Regions from separate parts of the Homo sapiens genome. Here region 1 is linked to region 2. Evidence: fine-mapped expression QTL. A gene starts in region 2. The other region holds a variant in brackets. All regions are shown on one strand. Distances are between the middles of the regions. Region 1 has its middle 78 kb from the start of SIMC1. Region 2 holds the start of CLTB (clathrin light chain B).

Region 1 (8,854 bases), 260 kb before region 2:
AGCCGGCTCGCAGGGCCCCGCCCTTCCTCTGTCCCTGCTGCTGCCTGTGCTTGAAGAGCCAAAGATGTTAACTCTCATGTGGACCCGTCCCTTTCCTGTGTCTAAATGCATGTGGCTCTAATAACGCATGACTTATCGCGGTCATTCCACAGCACTGGACATTTGGGAGAGCCTAGTACTAGCGGTGGGTAGAATAATTTCTCCTATGGCCCCTTCTGAGCCTATTCACAATAAGGCTGGGCTTGGCAGGCCAAGGAGCACTGTGGCTCCTTCCAGTTATAGAGGAGCCCAGGCCCTGCGGTTGGTGGCACAGCATCTTCACAGGCTAAAGCTCAAAACGCCATGACCCGCCGTTCTGCAGACCTAAGACAGGTTGTACTTTCACTGTCAAGATTATGCTGATCAGCAGCCTAACTGCTTCCTTTCATGCTCTTATCCCTTCAGGTTTCATTTATCTTTTTTGTCACTTTTCTTCCATCACTTCTATCACACTTCTTAGCCTTTACTCTAAAATGGGCTGCTGTTTATAATGACTCATTTACCAGAACATTTCTTTTGCTCAGGACAGAATTTTTAAGGTGGACAAGCAAAGCCTAAAGTCCCTTCCAGCCCTGCAATACTATGGGGTCTACACAGAAGTAGAAGACTGCTCTTCTCACTCATTGGCTTTGCTTCAACAAATGGTTCGGCTTCTGCCGTGATGAAGACCAGCTCACTCAAACCTTGGTTCCTATGAAAGTAACTGAAGAGCTTCCAGAATACAATGATAGTCCCAAAGGGATCTGATGTGGCTGAGTAGGGCAACCTCAGAAACACCATCAGAAACAATGAAAACCATACAACAAATGTGCTCATCATATACTTACAACCAGATCTCAAGTCTTCAGTCATCTCATCACATTTTGTTTGCTCGTAAAAGATGTGTGACAGGCAAGGTCCATGACCCCTCTGCCCTCTTCATTTCCATAGACCACATTCTGTGTGAGATTCATTTCTAAAAAACAGAATTCCAAAACTATCCATTGACACATGTAACAACTAAAATGATACGACATTCTCACATAATTGTTTTATCTAGATGACTGCCTTAATTACCAACAGCACTGAAATCTGCCCAAAATGTGTTGGAAAAAGAAAAATCCATTTCCCCAAATGAAAATATCTCTTTTATGGCAGACAAGCCAGCTGTGCTCATGAAAACAAGTCAATAATTGAGACTGAGAAATAAAGAAAAAAATGCTAAGACATAGAAAGGTACATTTCCACTAGAACTCTGATGAAAGGTACGATTTCTGAGCAATTCTCCCTATACTAGTATATTTGAAATTTTGTCTGAACTATAAAACACTTAAATATTCCAACCTAAAAGACTGACACAGCCCACATGAATATACACCCTATCCAAAATGTACAAATATCTGTTTCTCTTTTTTTATAGTTACAATGACAGTTTGTTATAAAGGATACAAATGAAGAGCCAGGTGAAGAGATACTCAGGGCAGCAAGGTCTGGAGGGGTCCAGGGTACAGAGCTTCTGTGCCCTCTCCAACTGGTCTGTCTGTCTAGCACATCAATAGATTCACCAACCAGGAAGCTCTCCAAGCCTTATTGCTGAGTTTTTATCTAGGTTTCATTTTATAGGTGTAATTGCTTAAATCATTGGCCATGTGACTGGGCTCAATTCTAGCCCCCTTCCTCTCCCCAGAGATTGGGAGGGTGAAAATTCCAACCCCCGAATTACATGATTGGTTTTTCTGGCAAACAGCCTTTATCCTGAAGCCATCCAGCCCATCTCCCCGCCCCACATCCATGAGCCATCTTGCTGGCATAAATTCAGGTATAGTCCAAAGGGGTTTGTATGAGTAATGAAAGACACTCTTATTCAGGAAATTCCTAGGGTTTGTGAAGCTCTGTGTCAGGAACTCGGGAGAAAACCTAAATGTACTTTTAAAGTTTATACCACAAGCTTGGAATTTGGGAGTGGTTAGCACCTATTGGAAGTGGTTGGAATCTATCTAAAAGCCTCAGTCAAAAGTGAGAGGAAGAATTTGATTTTAACATCCTATTACAGTATGAAAGTGCAACAGAACTACTGCAACATAAATGTTAGTTCAGATAGGACAAATACGGCCTTTCAATTTGGGCATGATTCGTTTTAGATGTTCTTGGATTTTTTCATCAAGTTAGGTGTAAGTGAAAGGACATGAAGCAAATCAAAGAACTTGTTGAAAAATTGCATCCCTGATAACTAGCGACATATTTTTCATGTTTGTTATAAATACCCTGTAGGTACTGCCTCCAGTGAACCAATTTAAATAAGATTCCCTGGGTATCGAAGCCGTGAGAACACGGGAATATATTGAGAAGGACATTTTCCTACTTTGAAAGGTTTGTACTTGGAATCTATGTGCTTGTATATCTTAAAAGAGGTTAGGAAAGGAATAACTTATCTGTTAATAGGAATACCTGAGTCCTCCGCAATTCTGGTGGGGAAAAAGGGAGTGAGCAGAGAACCACTTAATAAAAGTGGAAAAACTGTAATAGTGTTCCTCTGAGACACATTTTTACTAAAAGTATATTTTCTTTTTGTTTGAAAATCAGAATCAAAGGCATATTTAACTACAGTGAAAATAGCTGTTTTTAATCACTGAGTCTCTCAAATGTGACGTTACAAATTTAGATAACACAATAGTTTCTTCAAAGTAATATAAACCTAATTGTATTCACATGTTTACAGACAAGCAAAAGTGTTTTAGCATCTAGTGGCTCATTCAGGTGGAAGGCAGCTGTTCCTTAACTGCATCCTTTTAACCTTGATCAAAATGAAAACTTGTGTTTCTTTTATTCTGTTTTTTCAAGCCCACTTACTGTCTTTTTTCAACGGACTCATGATATTCACGTGTTCTCTTTTCAGGAGTCGGTGACCGAAAGGTATTAGTGAAATTAATTCTATGGTCACTAACAGGCTTCAGAGACATTGTGTCCACATTTTCTTGAAGGGACACTGAAGGAGTCTCAGTGTGTAAACATCCATCCACGTCCAAAACTGTCTCCGCATCTGATGCCACGTGCTTATGCTGGTGAGGAGACTGTGCCTCCTTGCACAGGGTCAGTCAGGTCAAAACCACCTTTGTGGGCATTTGCATCATGAAAATGAACAGAGCTGAGGGTCTTCACCGGAACATACTTTCTTGCATTTTCCTTTAAGAGAGAATCAGTAACAGAGCAATAGTAAGTTTTATGTTTCATAACTCATACTAAAATTTATGGGAAAATTATACAGTTGATATAAAAGTTGTATTATTTGAAGGAACAATATACACTCTTGACTGTATTCCAGACTACATGTGAACCAAACATAAGCAGCTGACCAAACCAAAAGCTATGATGTGGTCATGAAAAACACACACATCGACGGATTCAGATGCTGAAAGTGGCCTCAGGTTCCATTACATCAGGGCTCCCAACCCCTGGGCCCCAGATATCAACAGGTTCAGATACCAAAGTGGGTCTTGTGTATCCGTTTCATGAGAGAATGATAGAAATGTCAGCTTAACTTTTATCATGACCCACCAATGTCTCTACAAGGGTGGTCAGCCC[A/G]TTAGTGTGACCAACCTCCTAAAGTTAATACGAGTAACGGCCCCTGAAAACACAGATATTAGTGTCTCTTCGTAGGAGTAAAATAGTGGATACTACAAATGCCCCTGAGCAGTCCAATAAAATTTGTAGCAGACACAGCAAATTTAGCCAGTGCCTTAAAATTACGCTCTCCATCACATCTTTCCAAGTGGCACGTCTTAGTCTCTCCTAAAATTGTAACTGCTGAAAAGGGGCTCAGATGTCTTCAGTACTGCTTGTGGACATTTGGCTGTCACCGTGGTCTCAAGGACCAATAAAACCTATTAACAGCAGCCCCTTCTGCTGTAAGATGAGCAAGAAAGGGAACGACCTGATAAGGCTCAGCTTCCGGAAGTTACAACATTAAAATGCTAAATAAAGCATGCTGACGTAAAGATTGAGATGTGAAAGTATTAGAAGAAGATACAGATTAATTAGCTTATAGTCTTCAGTAGATAACATCTAAGTATAATACTCTAATGGTCTGAACTGTGTCCCTCCAAAAAGATACATTCAAGTCCTGAGCCTGGTAACTATAAATTGTCATATTATTATTCTAGAACAAGGTGTTTGCAGATGCAATTTACTTAAGAATCTTCAGATGAGGTCTTCCTGGATTTGGGGTGGATCTTAAGCACAATGACCAATGTCCTTATCAGAGAAAAGAAGGAAAATTTTCAGACAGAGACATCAAGGCCAAGTGAACAGAAAGACAAGAATGGAATGATGCTGCTACAAGCCAAGGAATGTCAGGAGCCACCAGAAGCTGAGACAGCCAGGGGGGATTTTCCTCTAGAGCCTTTGGAGGGAGCACCACCCTGTCAATATCTTGATTTCAAACTTTTGGCTTCCAGAAACCTGAGGGAATAAATTTCTGTTGTTTTAGGCCAGCATGACTGTGGTAATTTGTTCTGGCAAGCCTAGGAAACTGACATACATTAAAGGCTGAAATGCATAAAGATCAATATATTTCCATAACATAGAAACCTCACAAAACTGATAGTTAAGATATGAATACCCCAATAGAAAAAGGACAAAGATGACAAAGAAACACCATGTAAAACTAGACAACTACTTTTCATATACGACACTTGCAAAGATGAAAAAGAAGCACAATGTGAAAAACCAGCTGTCTCGCCCGCAAAGCAACTTGAAATAATCTTGAATGAAAAATGCAGTTGTAACTTCTAGCTTCCAGTTCTGCACATCAAGAGCTTGGAAGTCAACACTCCATCCCAACAACAAGTAAAAAGATGAACAAACTGACAAGTCAACAATTCTTCTGAGATCTCTGAGAGAAGTGAAGTCACGGCACAAACCACCGCCTCCAAAGCTGGAGAGAGAGATAGATGAATGCAGAGAATTATAACATATGGGAGCATAAACTCCCAAGCAGAGGCCCCCACAGTAGCCACAGCCAGCGTAGGAAAGCCGGAAATGCAATCGAGGAACTGCTGCACGCTCAGTGTGGAAAAGTCTGAGGCTTAAAAACTCCAGGCCGGGCGCGGTGGCTCACGCCTGTAATCCCAGCACTTTGGGAGGCCGAGGCGGGCAGATCACGAGGTCAGGAGATCGAGACCACCCTGGCTAATACGGTGAAACCCTGTCTCTACTAAAAAACACAAAACAAAACAAAACAAAACAAAACAAAAAACTCCAGGGGGCCCAGTCATAGGTGGGCCCCTATGCTTTTGTGAGTTTTATCTCCAGGAACATGACCAGGTTCTCACAGCAAATATTGGAGAAAAATCCCTCTGGACTTCCAGCAGGGAGGGGGAAAGGGGCCACTTTGAAATATGACATGGCACTTTGTTCTTAATTAGGTCAGTCCTCAGGAAAACTGACTAACCAGAGCCTAACCTGCTGGGGTTTTAGCTGAGCCTAACTAGCCTAGAGGAAGGGAAATACCCAACTCCATTTCCCTCTAGCCACCCTGTTCAACCTGAGAGGGAGAAAGACCGAGACACACTTGTGAAGTGCACAGTCCAAAGGCACAGGCTCACTGAAAGACTGGGACCACATCCCAGAACTGTGGAATGCTTCCCCTCTCCAACGTTTTACCGCAACATGTTGAAAGCTGTTCTTTTTACTTAATATATGGTGTCCAGCTAGCAAGAGAAAGTTACAATTTAGAAAAAGGTGAAAAACACAGTTATATTAAGCACATTATGCTTAGGAATTAGAAATCTTTTGTTACTATGAGGTACTCAAACTACTGTGGAAGCAGGATAATGTCATTTGAAAGTGAGCATGGATTAATTATTGATGTATGTTGCAAATACTAGAGCAACCACTAAAAAAGTGGAAACAAAGAATTATGTCTCATATGCTAAAAAAGAGAAAATGGAATCATATAAAATGCTGAACTAAAACCATGTAAAGCTAAAACCCCTCAAAAACGCATTTAGTTCATCTTCTTAGATCCATGAAATATATATATTATATAGATAACCTTAAACATTTAAATTAGTTAGATTTTCCAAACCAAATTCTGATTATTTGCCTATAACATTAGAAATGAAAAGATAACAAGAAGTGACATTAGGAAAGATGGCAAAGTAGAAAGTGCCAGAAATGTGTGTCTCCACCTAGTCAACAACCATAGTGTACTGAAAAAAGACTCTCTGGAGTAACTGTTAGAACTCTGAGGTCTCTTTGAACACTTCCAGCTACCAGGGAAAAAGCTTAGCTGGTAAAGTGCAGTTAATGTGGACCAACTTCAGGCTTCAGCATAACAGTGGCTACCCAGCCCCAGGCTCACGGCCAACAAGTGTAGAGAAAGTAATCTGTGTTTCTAGGGCAGATGGCTGGAGCCACATTTGGCAATAGAACCTTGCCTCCGCTTTATCAGGGTTCTATGTCCTGACTGCAAATTGCTGCTTCTGATTGCCCGGGATAGGTACACAGAAGCTGCCCATCACTGTTTCAAACCCACTGGCTGAAGCAGCCTTTAGGAGACTTAAAGGAGCTGCATTTCTTTTCTTTCTTTTTTCTTTTTCTTTTTTTTTTTTTTGGTATTCAAAAATCAAACAGCATGTAAAAAAAAAGTATTCACCATAACCAGGATACACCATTCCTGGGCTGTATCCCAGGAATGACAATGTGGTTCAACATAAGAAAGCCAATAAATGTAATAAATCACATTAATAAAACTATATGATCACCTTAAACAATGCAAAAAAAAAAAGGCATTTGACAAAATCCAACACCTTTTTATAATAGAAACTCTCAGAAAACTAGAAATAGAAGGGAAATTCCTCAACATGATAAAGGGTATTTGTTTTAATCTACAGCTAACATCATACTGAATGATAAAGATGGAAAGTTATCCCTATAAGATTAGGAACAAGAAATGATGCCTGCTTAAATTGCTGCTACTGAATAGTGTACTGGAAATCACAGACAGCGATTAGAAGGAAAAGAAATAAAAGGCATGCAAATTGGAAAGAGTTGTAAAAGTATCTCTCTCTGCAGATTACATCATCCTATATGCATAAAATCCCAAAGAATCCACAAGAGAGCTACTGGAGCTAGTAAATAAATTCAACATTGAAGGGCACAAGATCGATACACAGAAATCAGGCGTTTCTAAACACCAATAATAAACAATCTAAAATATAAATTAAGAAAGTGATTCCATTTATAATAGCATCTAAAAAAATTAAGTACTTCGGAATAAGTTTAGTCAAGGAAGCAAAAGACATGCTGAAAACTACAAAACACTGTTAAAAGAAAGAAAACCTAAACAAATGGAAAGGCATCCATCCTGTGTGTTGATGAAGGCTTAATCCTTTACAACGTTGAATTTCACAACTTCGTGGATATGACAACAAAAGCACAGGGAGCAAAAGAAAACATAGATAATAACACTATATCGTAATTAAAAATTTTCGCACATGAAAGACTAATATCAAGAAAGTGAAAGACAACCTACAGAATGAAATATTTATAAATCATATATCTGTTAAGGAATTAATATCCAGATGACATAAAGAACTCTACAATTCAACAACAAAAAGCCAAACAACTCAATTAAAAACTGAGCAAAGGACTTAAATGAACAGCTCCCCAAGGAAGTCATACAAATGGCCAATAATTACATGAAAAGATGCTCAACATCACTAGTCATCAGGGAAATGCAAATCCAAACCACAGTGATGTACCACCACCTCACACCTATTGGGATAACGATAATAAAAAGAAGGGGGTAAAAGTGTCATTTAGGATGTGGAGAAGTTGGAACCCTGCCGTTTTGCTGGTGGATGGAAACTGGTGCAGCTGCTGGAGAAAACAGCGTGGCAGTTCCTCAAAACATTAAGCATAGAGCTACCACAGGACCCAGCAATTTCACCTCTGCATATATATTTAAATAAACTGAAAGCAGGGACTTGCACAGGTATTTGTACACCAATATTCACAGCAGCATTATACTCAAAAGCCAGAAGACTCAAAACATCCAACTGCCCATTGACAGATGAAGAGAGAAAAAAAGTCATATATACAATGGAATATTATTCAACCATAAAAAATGACATTTTGACATATGCTACAACATGAGTAGACCTTGAAGACATCGTGCTAAATGAAATAAGCCAGAATAGGAAAGCCAAATGTTGTATGATTCCCCTCACATGAGGTTACCCAGAGTAGGCAAATTTATCAAGACAGAAAGTGAGAAAGAAATTTGCTTAGTATGGTAGCTTGTATTTCTAAGTTCTGTAGAGGTCATACAATAAGGAAGGCAGGCTACTTATTAAATCAAGGACACAATATGGTTCTCTCAGTTAACACAAACTGCATGGCCTCAAATTAGGGGAATCATCATCACTTTATAAAGTAATGTATTTTAAGGCTGACCTACAGGTAGAGATTTTTATGCCACCCAAGCAATCAAGCTTTGATGTGGATGTTCATTCCACATTCTGCCCTGATCCTCAGCTGCCAGAGGTGAGGCTGCACTGGCCTCCACACTACCTGCCTCCCTTCACGGCTTCAGGATCAGAGAGCTGGGAGGCTCCTACATACGCGGACATCTTATGGATTTAACACTTTCTTTTTTTGTTGTTTGTTTGTTTGGCTTTTTCTTTTTTTTTTCTAAAGACAGGGTATTGCTCTGGAGTGCTGTGCTTAGATCATAGCTTTCTGTAGCCTCCAACTCCTGGGCTCAAGTGATCCTTCTGCCTCAGCCTCCCAAGTAGCTAGGAATACAGGCATGCAGTACCACATCCAGCTAGTT
Region 2 (8,900 bases):
TCCCCCAACAAACAGACCCTCCATGAGGGTGTGGACTTGGTTTCATCCATGATGAGGCCCACCTACAACAGTCCCTGGAACATAACAAGGACTCAATAAATATTTGCCAGATAAGTACATCTAACCCTGGAACATGAGGATCTCTACAATCTGGCCCTGCCCATTCCTGACTCACTTCCCACCAGCCCATCCCACAAACCCTAAATTCTGGTTTCCTCCTTCTCCAAACACACCACCCTCATCCCCATGCTTTCTTCCTGCTTCCCTCTCTAAAGAATGCTTTTTTGGGCCGGGCGTGGTGGCTTATGCCTGTAATCCCAGCACTTTGGGAGGCTGAGGTGGGCAGATCACGAAGTCAGGAGATCGAGACCATCCTGGCTAACACGGTGAAACCCCGTCTCTACTAAAAATACAAAAAATTAGCCAGGCGTGGTGGCAGGCGCCTGTAGTCCCAGCCACTCGGGAGGCTGAGGCAGGAGAATGGTGTGAACCCGGGAGGCGGAGCTTGCAGTGAGCCGAGATCCCGCCACTGCACTCCAGCCTGGGCGACAGAGTGAGACTCATCTCAAAAAAAAAAAAAAAAAAAGAATGCTTTTTTGGCTCCATTTATTCTCCAAGGTCCAGCTCATAAGTCACCTCCTCTGGGAAGCCCTCCTCTGCTTCCTTTACTTCCCTAGGCACTTACGGAAGGTCTCACTTCCGGGGTATCCCAGGATATCATACAGTATCCTGCACCCTCTTGTGCAATTACTCATGACCCCCAGGGTCCGTGTGTACCCCCTTACCAGGCTCCGTGTCCTATTCAGCTCCTCAGGGCTCCAGCACGGAATGGGTGAGCAGTAACTATTGGCTAAATGGAAGTTGAATTGTTGTTTTGAGGCCTGCTGTTATCTGCAAGGCTCTCAGAAACTGCTGTGCCTCCTAGCAAAAAGCCATGGAGGCCACATGAGGTTAATAGGCAGATGGACAAATAGCCCTTCACCAGCCAGACAGGGCTGTGAGCAGCGACAGTGTGTTTGGCCTGGGGACTCAAGGGAAGGGTACTTAATCCCATGGAAATAATCCCCGGGTGACATAAATCATAATTGACTTTGCTTTCAGAGTCAACCAGTGATTGATTCCAACCAACTCTGTCAGCTGTCACTCCCATTCCTTCAGATAAGGCTTCTCCTGCATGGGTGTCCTGGCCCCTAAATCACAGTGGGACCAATAGCATTTCAGTGGCAGCATCTTCTGCAAAGGGGCTTCTTCTGCTGGGGTGTCTCCTCTAGCAGGGCCTCACGTTACCAGGGTCTATTCCCTGTGATGCCGGTCTGTACATTTGGCCTTCTCGAGAATTTGCACCACCCTACTCCGCCCTGACCAACCCCAGTCTCAGACCCCACATCTACACACAGCTGCCTGGGGTCTACCCTGACCTTCAGAAAGTCTCTCTGCCTCAGCCTCGAGAGTGTTCCTCTGGACATGCAGTTTCGGCCTCCTTAAGAGTCCACACACACCTACACAGCATTCCAAGTACCTGTTCCCACAGTGCTCTCCACCCACCCACTGCCCATCTACCACCGGGAGTCCACACTCACAGGCCAGCAGAACAGGACTGAGACAGAGACACGTCCCAGGGATAAACCCCTGAGGGTTTGCTTCCCTCAGCTGCCTGACCCATTTTGGAACAAGGGCAGAGAGGGTCCAGAACATTCCTGTGAGCTTACGAGGCCCAGCGGGGGAAATGGGCTTGCCCAGAACTGACAGGCAAGTCAGAGCCAGGCCTGGTGCTCAGAAAACTGGGTGTGAAAATGGAAACCTACCCAAGGCTGATGAATGGAAACAAAGTGTCCATCATCCAGATCACCCAGGGCCACAGATCCAGCCAGAGAGGAGGGGCTCCCTGTGGCTCCAGCACAGGCCTACACCAGATACCTCTTTCCCCAGGGGCAACTGAGCCCAGTGTCAGCACAGAGATTGCTAATCTGAGGACCCCAACATCTAAGAGAAGGTGCCTCAGAGGTACTGACTGGCGGCCGCTGCTAAGCCAGCTTTTGCCCAGCTCTCAGCAGGCCAGGGCGCTTTTTCTCTGCCCCATCCAGGCTCCTGGCACACATCCCTGGTCAGGGGAAGATTACCTGTTCAGCACTGCATAGGCTGAGAAGGTCAGATCAATTCTAGCCCATCTGGCCATCCACTGAGCCGCCATCCCTCAACACCTCCCTGCTCCCCGATCCAACTAAGGAGGGCAGCTGAGCCTTTGCAGAGTCAGCAGGTATGCGCCTGGGAGACCCTCAGAAGGCTGTATCCCCGGCACCTCCCTGGAAGAAGCGAGCGTGTCATTGTTTCTCTCCCTGTCACCTCTGGTCTGAGGCCAATTTGTGCCCCACCCCTGCCAAGGACAGAACTTGCCATCCAGACTGTAAGTCCCTGGAGCCCCACCATCCTGGGAGAGGCCACAACCTGCTCAGCTCCCTCAGGCATCTGGCTGCCCTCAGCCTGAATCCCATCTTTTCTCTCCTGAGGTTCTCACAATGGCTCCCCTCAGCAGGACCTCCCCACAAGGCCTCCCTCCTCTTCCCTGCACCCCGACCCCAACAGGCCCCAGTGAGCCAGACTGAGGAAAAGGGTGGTCTCACAGAGGTGTGGTCCAGTGAATACTGGTGCATTAACTGGGGCAGGCATTTCTTAGGAATTCCCTGGGACACGGCAGATTCTGTATTGAGGTGCTGGAAGCTTCCACTTCAGAAGCCCTCCATTGCTGTCTCAGATAGGTGGCAAAAGACCCCATGCTTCTCACCCCACATCCTATCTCCTGCCAGGGAGGTGACTGCTATAGAATCTTTTTTTTTTTTTTTTTGAGACAGGGTCTCACTCTGCTGCCCAGGCTGGAGTACAGAGACGTGATCACAGCACACGGCGACCTACCTACACCTCCCGGGCTCAAGCTATGCTCCTGCCTCAGCCTTCCCGAGCAGCTGGAACTACAACTACAGCTACATGCCACCATGCCTGGCTAATTTTTGTATGTTTTGTAGAGATGGGGTTTCACCATGTTGCCCAGGCTCCACAGCATTTGAAAGAGCATGGAGCCCAGAGTTGGGAGGCGTGGGATCAAGTCCTAGATTGGTCATTCCTGGCTGTGTGACTCTGGGCAAGATACTCAGATTCTCTGGGCCACCGGTTTCTTGCATGTTACAAAAGCCTGGTTACATTTCTCATATCAAGGAGATACAGAGTTGCTTCAAACTCCTCAGCCACAGGAACTGTCTTATTCATTTCTGTATCCCCAGCGTCCTGACACACAGTAGGTGCTCAGTAAACGTTGAATGGATACAAACATGACTGTGAAGAGCCTTGTAAACATCATTAACCAAAATATGTCTATATGTATATATGTTAGCACTTACTACAACAGGCCCATAAACCTTTCCAAAATGACATCAACAGGAAGTAAAACCTGTTTTGGATGTACCCATGAAGGTGATATCTACTTTTTTACTAAATATTTTACAAAATCATTCTTGCTAGCCAGAACCAGGGCAGAAACATCATTGATAAAGATGATTTCACAGGGACTAGGCCCTGAACACTGAGGTCTGAAGCCAATCACAGTAAATCATAATAGCCCCGGACCACCTTTGGAAAACCATTAAGTCGACAACTACAAAACCCTGAAGGGCCCTACCGCATCTGACTGATGCCTCTTTGTGGCCCACACTCCGGTGTCTAACTCAGAGCCAGACACTTGGTAGGCAGTGTGGTCAGGTGGAGAGGGCTTCAAGTCCGACAGGAACAGGTTTAAATTCACGGCCAGGTGTGGTGACTCACACCTGTAATCCCAACACTTTAGGAGGCAGAGGTGGGAGGATTGCTTGAGCCCAGGAGCTCAAGACCAGTCTGGGCAACATAGCGAGACCCCATCTCAAAAAAAGGAAAAGAAAAAATATATATGTAAAAGAAAAAGAAACAGGTTTAAATTCTTGATCTGCCACTTACTAGTTATTTCAATAGCATACTCCCTTGAGCCTCAGTTTTACCATCTCTGAAATGGGTTCAATCACGTGTATGAAGTGATTAAATGTAACCAAGGCGCTTAGCCCAGCGACTGCCGAATGCCAGGCGGTCACCGGGGAAGGTTAGTGAGTTCCTGGAGCACCCAGGATCCTCTTTTTTCCCAGCTGCAGGAGAGAGCTAAGCCTGAGGGGCCAGGAGGGCTGTGTTCTGCCCACACCTGCACACTTAGCTGGGAGCCTGGGACACCCAGGCTATTAGGAGGCTCAGGAGGGACTCTCAAAACTGAGGTGGGGTTGGATTCCAGAGCCGGGCAGTGGGGAAGCTGGCCTGGGGATGAAATGTCATGACCGAATTCCTGTCCCGGGAGTCACCAGATCCACAGCCCCAGGCGAGGCCTCATCCCCAGCTCGGAAGTCCTACATGGAGATCTCCAAGAAGATTCTTCCCCACGTCTCCCAGCTCCTGCCCCGGGTGGCCTAGAGCAGGCTCTCTTCCCTGTGCCCCTGGGCCCCGGCCGGGGTCCCCCGGGTGCGCGCCCTGAGCCCCTCTCCAGGCCCCGCGCTGACTCACCCCCACTCGTGGGGCCCGGCTGCGCGGGGGCCGCATGGCTGCCGGCAGGTGCCCCGAAGCCCTCGTCGTTCTCTATGCCTGCAATCTCGCTCTCCTGCTGGGCCAGGAAGGCGGCCGCCGGGTCCTCCTCCGCCGCCTCCGGGGCACCGCTCTCCGACGACGAGAAGAAGCCAAAGTCATCAGCCATTTTCCCCGCGCCTCCGCCGGAGCCTCCGCTGCGCTCGGCTCTGCCCGCGCCTGCCCCGCGCTGCGTCCGGCGGCCGCGACGCTGTCACCCGAGCCGCGGGGGAGCCGGCGTCGGCGGGGACGGGCTTGGCGCGGACCGCACTTCCTCTCCGCCACCGGGCCCGGCTGGCTGTCACTGCGGTGCGGGCGCCGCGGCGGGAGGAGCGGAGCCGGAATGCGGTGACGTCACCGCGGGGGCGGGGCCGCAGGGCCGGGAGGTCGCCGAGCAGCGGCCGCAGGAGGGCGCCTCAGGACTGGGCGCAGCGCTGGGCCCGGGACCGGCGCGGCGCTTCCCTCCCTCCGCAGCGGCGCCCAGCTGCTCGCGTCGAGGACACCTGGGCTAGGCACTGCTCCCGCCCGGCCTGGAGGCGAAACGCAGGGCACAGAGTGGCCGTACCGTGCACAGAGCTGCGACAGGAGGCCACCTCTGGCCTCGGGAGCGCAGACCTGGCTCCTGATTCATTCTGCAGAAGTTTCTTCTCCTAGGTTGGGATGTCATGCACCTCATTCTATGAGCCTCCGCCTCTGTAAGAAGAGGAAAATTGAGGCTGGGAAAGGCTGCCCCGCACCTTTTCATGCAAGTCCAGGTCCTTTCCCACTAGGCCGTGTTGTTTTGTGTATTTTTTTGTGTATCTCCCTTGAGGAGGCTTCAGTTCATACGACCAGAGTTTGGATGGCCAGCTAGGCCCCTTAAATGTCCTTTAGGTATGAACCAGCCTGAGAAAGGCAGACCTGGTTTACCCAGGCAGCCTACCACTCTCCACGCTGCCCGCTGCCCTCTGTGAACAGGCTCTGAATGCCTCCTCCCTGCCTGCGCTTTGCCAAGCACCAGGACAGCAACGTTTTATAAAATCCAGCCATGGCCATGCGGAGATTACAATCCGGTGAGACCAACAGATGGCAAATGGCCTGTCAAAGCACTGTGTGTGAGGCGCTGTGACATTTAAACACGGGGTATAGGGAGACGATGCAAAGAAACACCATGGGATTTGGGCTGTCTGCTATTTCTAATGTGGGACTTGAAAGGCAACTATGAAATATGGACTGGAAGAGCGAAAGGAAAGATGTGCCGCCAAGTTGGGGGTGGAAGTGGAGTTGGGGTGAAGGGACCTTCCAGGTGTTTTTTTTTTTTTCTTTTTAATTTTTTTATTTAGAGACAGGGCCTCGCTATATTAACTGGGCTGGTCTTGAACTGCTGGCCTCAGGGGATCCTCCTGCCTTGGTCTCCCAAAACACTGGGATTACATGTGTGAGCTACCAAGCCCAGCTGGAACTTTCAGTTTAATTGGTAACAACTTGAGCACCTTTTGATGTTACTGTTTTTGGGGGGGTTTTTATTGTTTTATTTAATTAAATTAATGTATTTATTTATTGCTGTCCATTTGCATGGTTTTGTTGTTGTTGTTTGTTTGTTTTTTGTTTTGAGACAGGATCTTACTCTTGCCCAGGCTAGAGTGTAGTGGTACGATTATAGTTCACTACAGCTTCAACTCCTGGGCTCAAGTGATCCTCTCATCCTCAGACTTCCAAAGAGCTGGGATTACAGGCATGAGCCAACACACCTGGCCTTTTTGATGTTATTGTAAGTGGAAGTTTTATCTTCTTTTTTGATTGCGTATTGTTAATGCATAGAAATTTAACTGATTTTTGTGCATTGGCTTTGTATCCTGCTGCTTTGCTGAATTCATTTATTAGCTCTAACATTTTTTGTGTGTGGAATATTTAGGGTTTTCTGCAGATAAGAGCTTATTAGCCAGGTGCCATGGCTCATACCTGTAATCCCAGCACTTTGGGAGGTGGAAGTGGGTGGATAGATTGAGCCCAGGAGTTTGAGACCAGTCTGGACAACGTGGCAAAACCCCATCACTACTAAAACTACAAAAAATTAGCCAGACATGGTGGTATGGTGCCCGTAGTCCCAGTTACTCAGGAGGCCGAGGTGAGGGAATCACCTGAGCCCGGGAAGTCAAGGTTGCAGTGAGCTATGATTGTGTCAGAGGTGTGTGAATCAGAGCAAGTCCGTCGTAAACAGGATCTGGGTAAAATGAGGCTGAAACCTACTGGGCTGCATTCCCAGACGGTTAGGGCATTCTAAATCACAGGATGAGATAGGAGGTCAGCACAAAATACAAGTCATAAAGACCTTGCTGATAACACAGTTTGCAGTGTTGGGCAAGGTGGCCCACGCCTGTAATCCCAGCACTTTGGGAGGCCAAGGTGGGCGGATTGTGAGGTCAGGAGTTTGCGACCAGCCTGGTCAATATAGTGAAACCCCGTCTCTACTAAAAATACAAAAAATTAGCTGGGCATGGTGGCAGGTGCCTGTAATCCCAGCTACTTGGGAGGCTGAGGCAGGAGAATTGCTTGAACCCGGGAGGCGGAGGTTACAGTGAGCCGAGATCTCACCACTGCACTCCAGCCTGGGTGACAGTGCAAGACTCAGTCTCAAAAAACAAACAAACCAACAAACAACAACAACAAAAACCAGGTTGCAGTAAAGGAGCCAGCCAAAACCCACCAAAACCAAAATGGTGACAAGAGTGACCTCTGGTCATCCTCACTCCCACCAGTGCCAGGACAGTTTACAAATGCCATGGCAACATCAGGAAGTTACCCTATACGGTCTAAAAAGGGAAGGCACGAATAATCCACCCCTTGTTTAGCATTTCATCAAGAAATGGCCATGAAAATATGCAACCAGCAGTCCTTGGGGCTGCTCTGTCTATGGAGTAGCCATTCTTCTATTCCTTTACTTTCTTTTTCTTTTTTTGAGGTGGAGTCTCGCTCTGTTGCCCAGGCTGGAGTGCAGTGGTGCGATCTCGGCTCACTGCAAGCTCCACCTCCCGGGTTCACGCCATTCTCCTGCCTCAGCCTCCCAAGTAGCTGGGACTACAGGAGCCTGCCACCATGCTCAGCTAATTTTTTTTTTTTTTGTATTTTTAGTAGAGACGGGGTTTCACCCTGTTAGCCAGGATGGTCTCGATCTCTTGACTTCATGATCTGTCCACCTCGGCCTGCCAAAGTGCTGGGATTACAGGCGTGAGCCACCGTGCCCGGCCCCTCCTTTACTTTCTTAATAAACTTGTTTTCGCTTTGCACCAAGGACTCACCCTGAATTCTTTCTTGCGTGAGATCCAAGAACCCTCTCTTGGGGTCTGGATTGGGACCCCTGTCCTATAACAATCACACCACTGCGCTCCAGCCTGGGCAATGAGAGTGAGACCCTGTCTCTAAATAAATAAATAGCATCTGCAAACAGAGATACTTCTTACTTTCCAATCTGGGTTGCTTTTATTTCTTTTTCTTGCCTAATTTCTCTGGCTAGGACTTCCAGTACTATGTTGAATAGAAATACCAAAAGTGGGCATCCTTCTGCACAAGTTGTCCAAATCAAACTGGAGTCACTTATGCCAAACCCTAGCAAAATGGACTCAGGAGGCCATAAATGAGGGGCTCCCATGCACACATGCCTATGATAGAAAATATTACAAGGACTGTCTGAGGCTGGGCACGGTGGCTCATGCCTGTAATCCCAACACTTTGGGATGCTGAGATGGGCGGATCACCTGAGGTCTGGAGTTCAAGACCAACCTAACATGATGAAACCCCGTCTCTACTAAAAATACAAAATTAGCTGGGTGTGGTGGCACACACCTGTAATCCCAGCTACTCAGGAGGCTAAGGCAGAAGAATTGCTTGAACCTGGGAGGCAGAGGTTGCAGTGAGCCGAGATTGCCCCATTGTACTCCAGCCTGGGCAACAAGAGCAAAACTCCGTCTCAAGAAAAAAAAAAAAACCCAACAACAACAACAACAAAAAACAAGGATTGTCTGAAACCACAATCTTGCACAAAGGCCGTCACACCCATGCACGAAGAATATTTCTGCAATGACACCTGCCCAGCAATTGCCTGTTCAATCTTGGAATAATGCTACCCTTGTTATCAATCCTTGTAGCCAAGGATAATTTTTTCAAAACAACTTACGTAGCCTTCCTCATTTTGCCTTTAAAACCCCTTTCCTTCCTTTTTCTCTCTGAGTGCCCCCCTCCATGGTTCACCATAGTACATGTATTCCCTGGGATGCAACTGTAAACAAGAAAGTATC

What was found. PIP is the estimated chance that this variant, and not a neighbour inherited with it, causes the effect. A credible set is the group of variants that fine-mapping cannot tell apart.
Region 1: its variant is the best candidate, but not a certain one, in a credible set for the expression of CLTB in whole blood (INTERVAL, PIP 0.85).

What each region holds. Positions count from the first base shown.
Region 1 is chr5:176,155,996-176,164,849 of GRCh38, forward strand. It overlaps the pseudogene CEP192P1. Among named protein-coding and RNA genes, the nearest start is that of SIMC1, 78 kb to the right of the region's middle. RefSeq lists a silencer at 5,091-5,331. The variant A/G (reference allele first, on the strand shown) is at 3,601.
Region 2 is chr5:176,411,608-176,420,507 of GRCh38, forward strand. CLTB (clathrin light chain B) reads right to left here and starts at 4,932. Exons shown (of 6, transcript NM_007097.5): 1 at 4,570-4,932. The coding sequence starts at 4,756. It also overlaps a transcript of ARL10 not described here. RefSeq lists silencers at 4,435-4,514, 4,625-4,724, 4,765-5,224.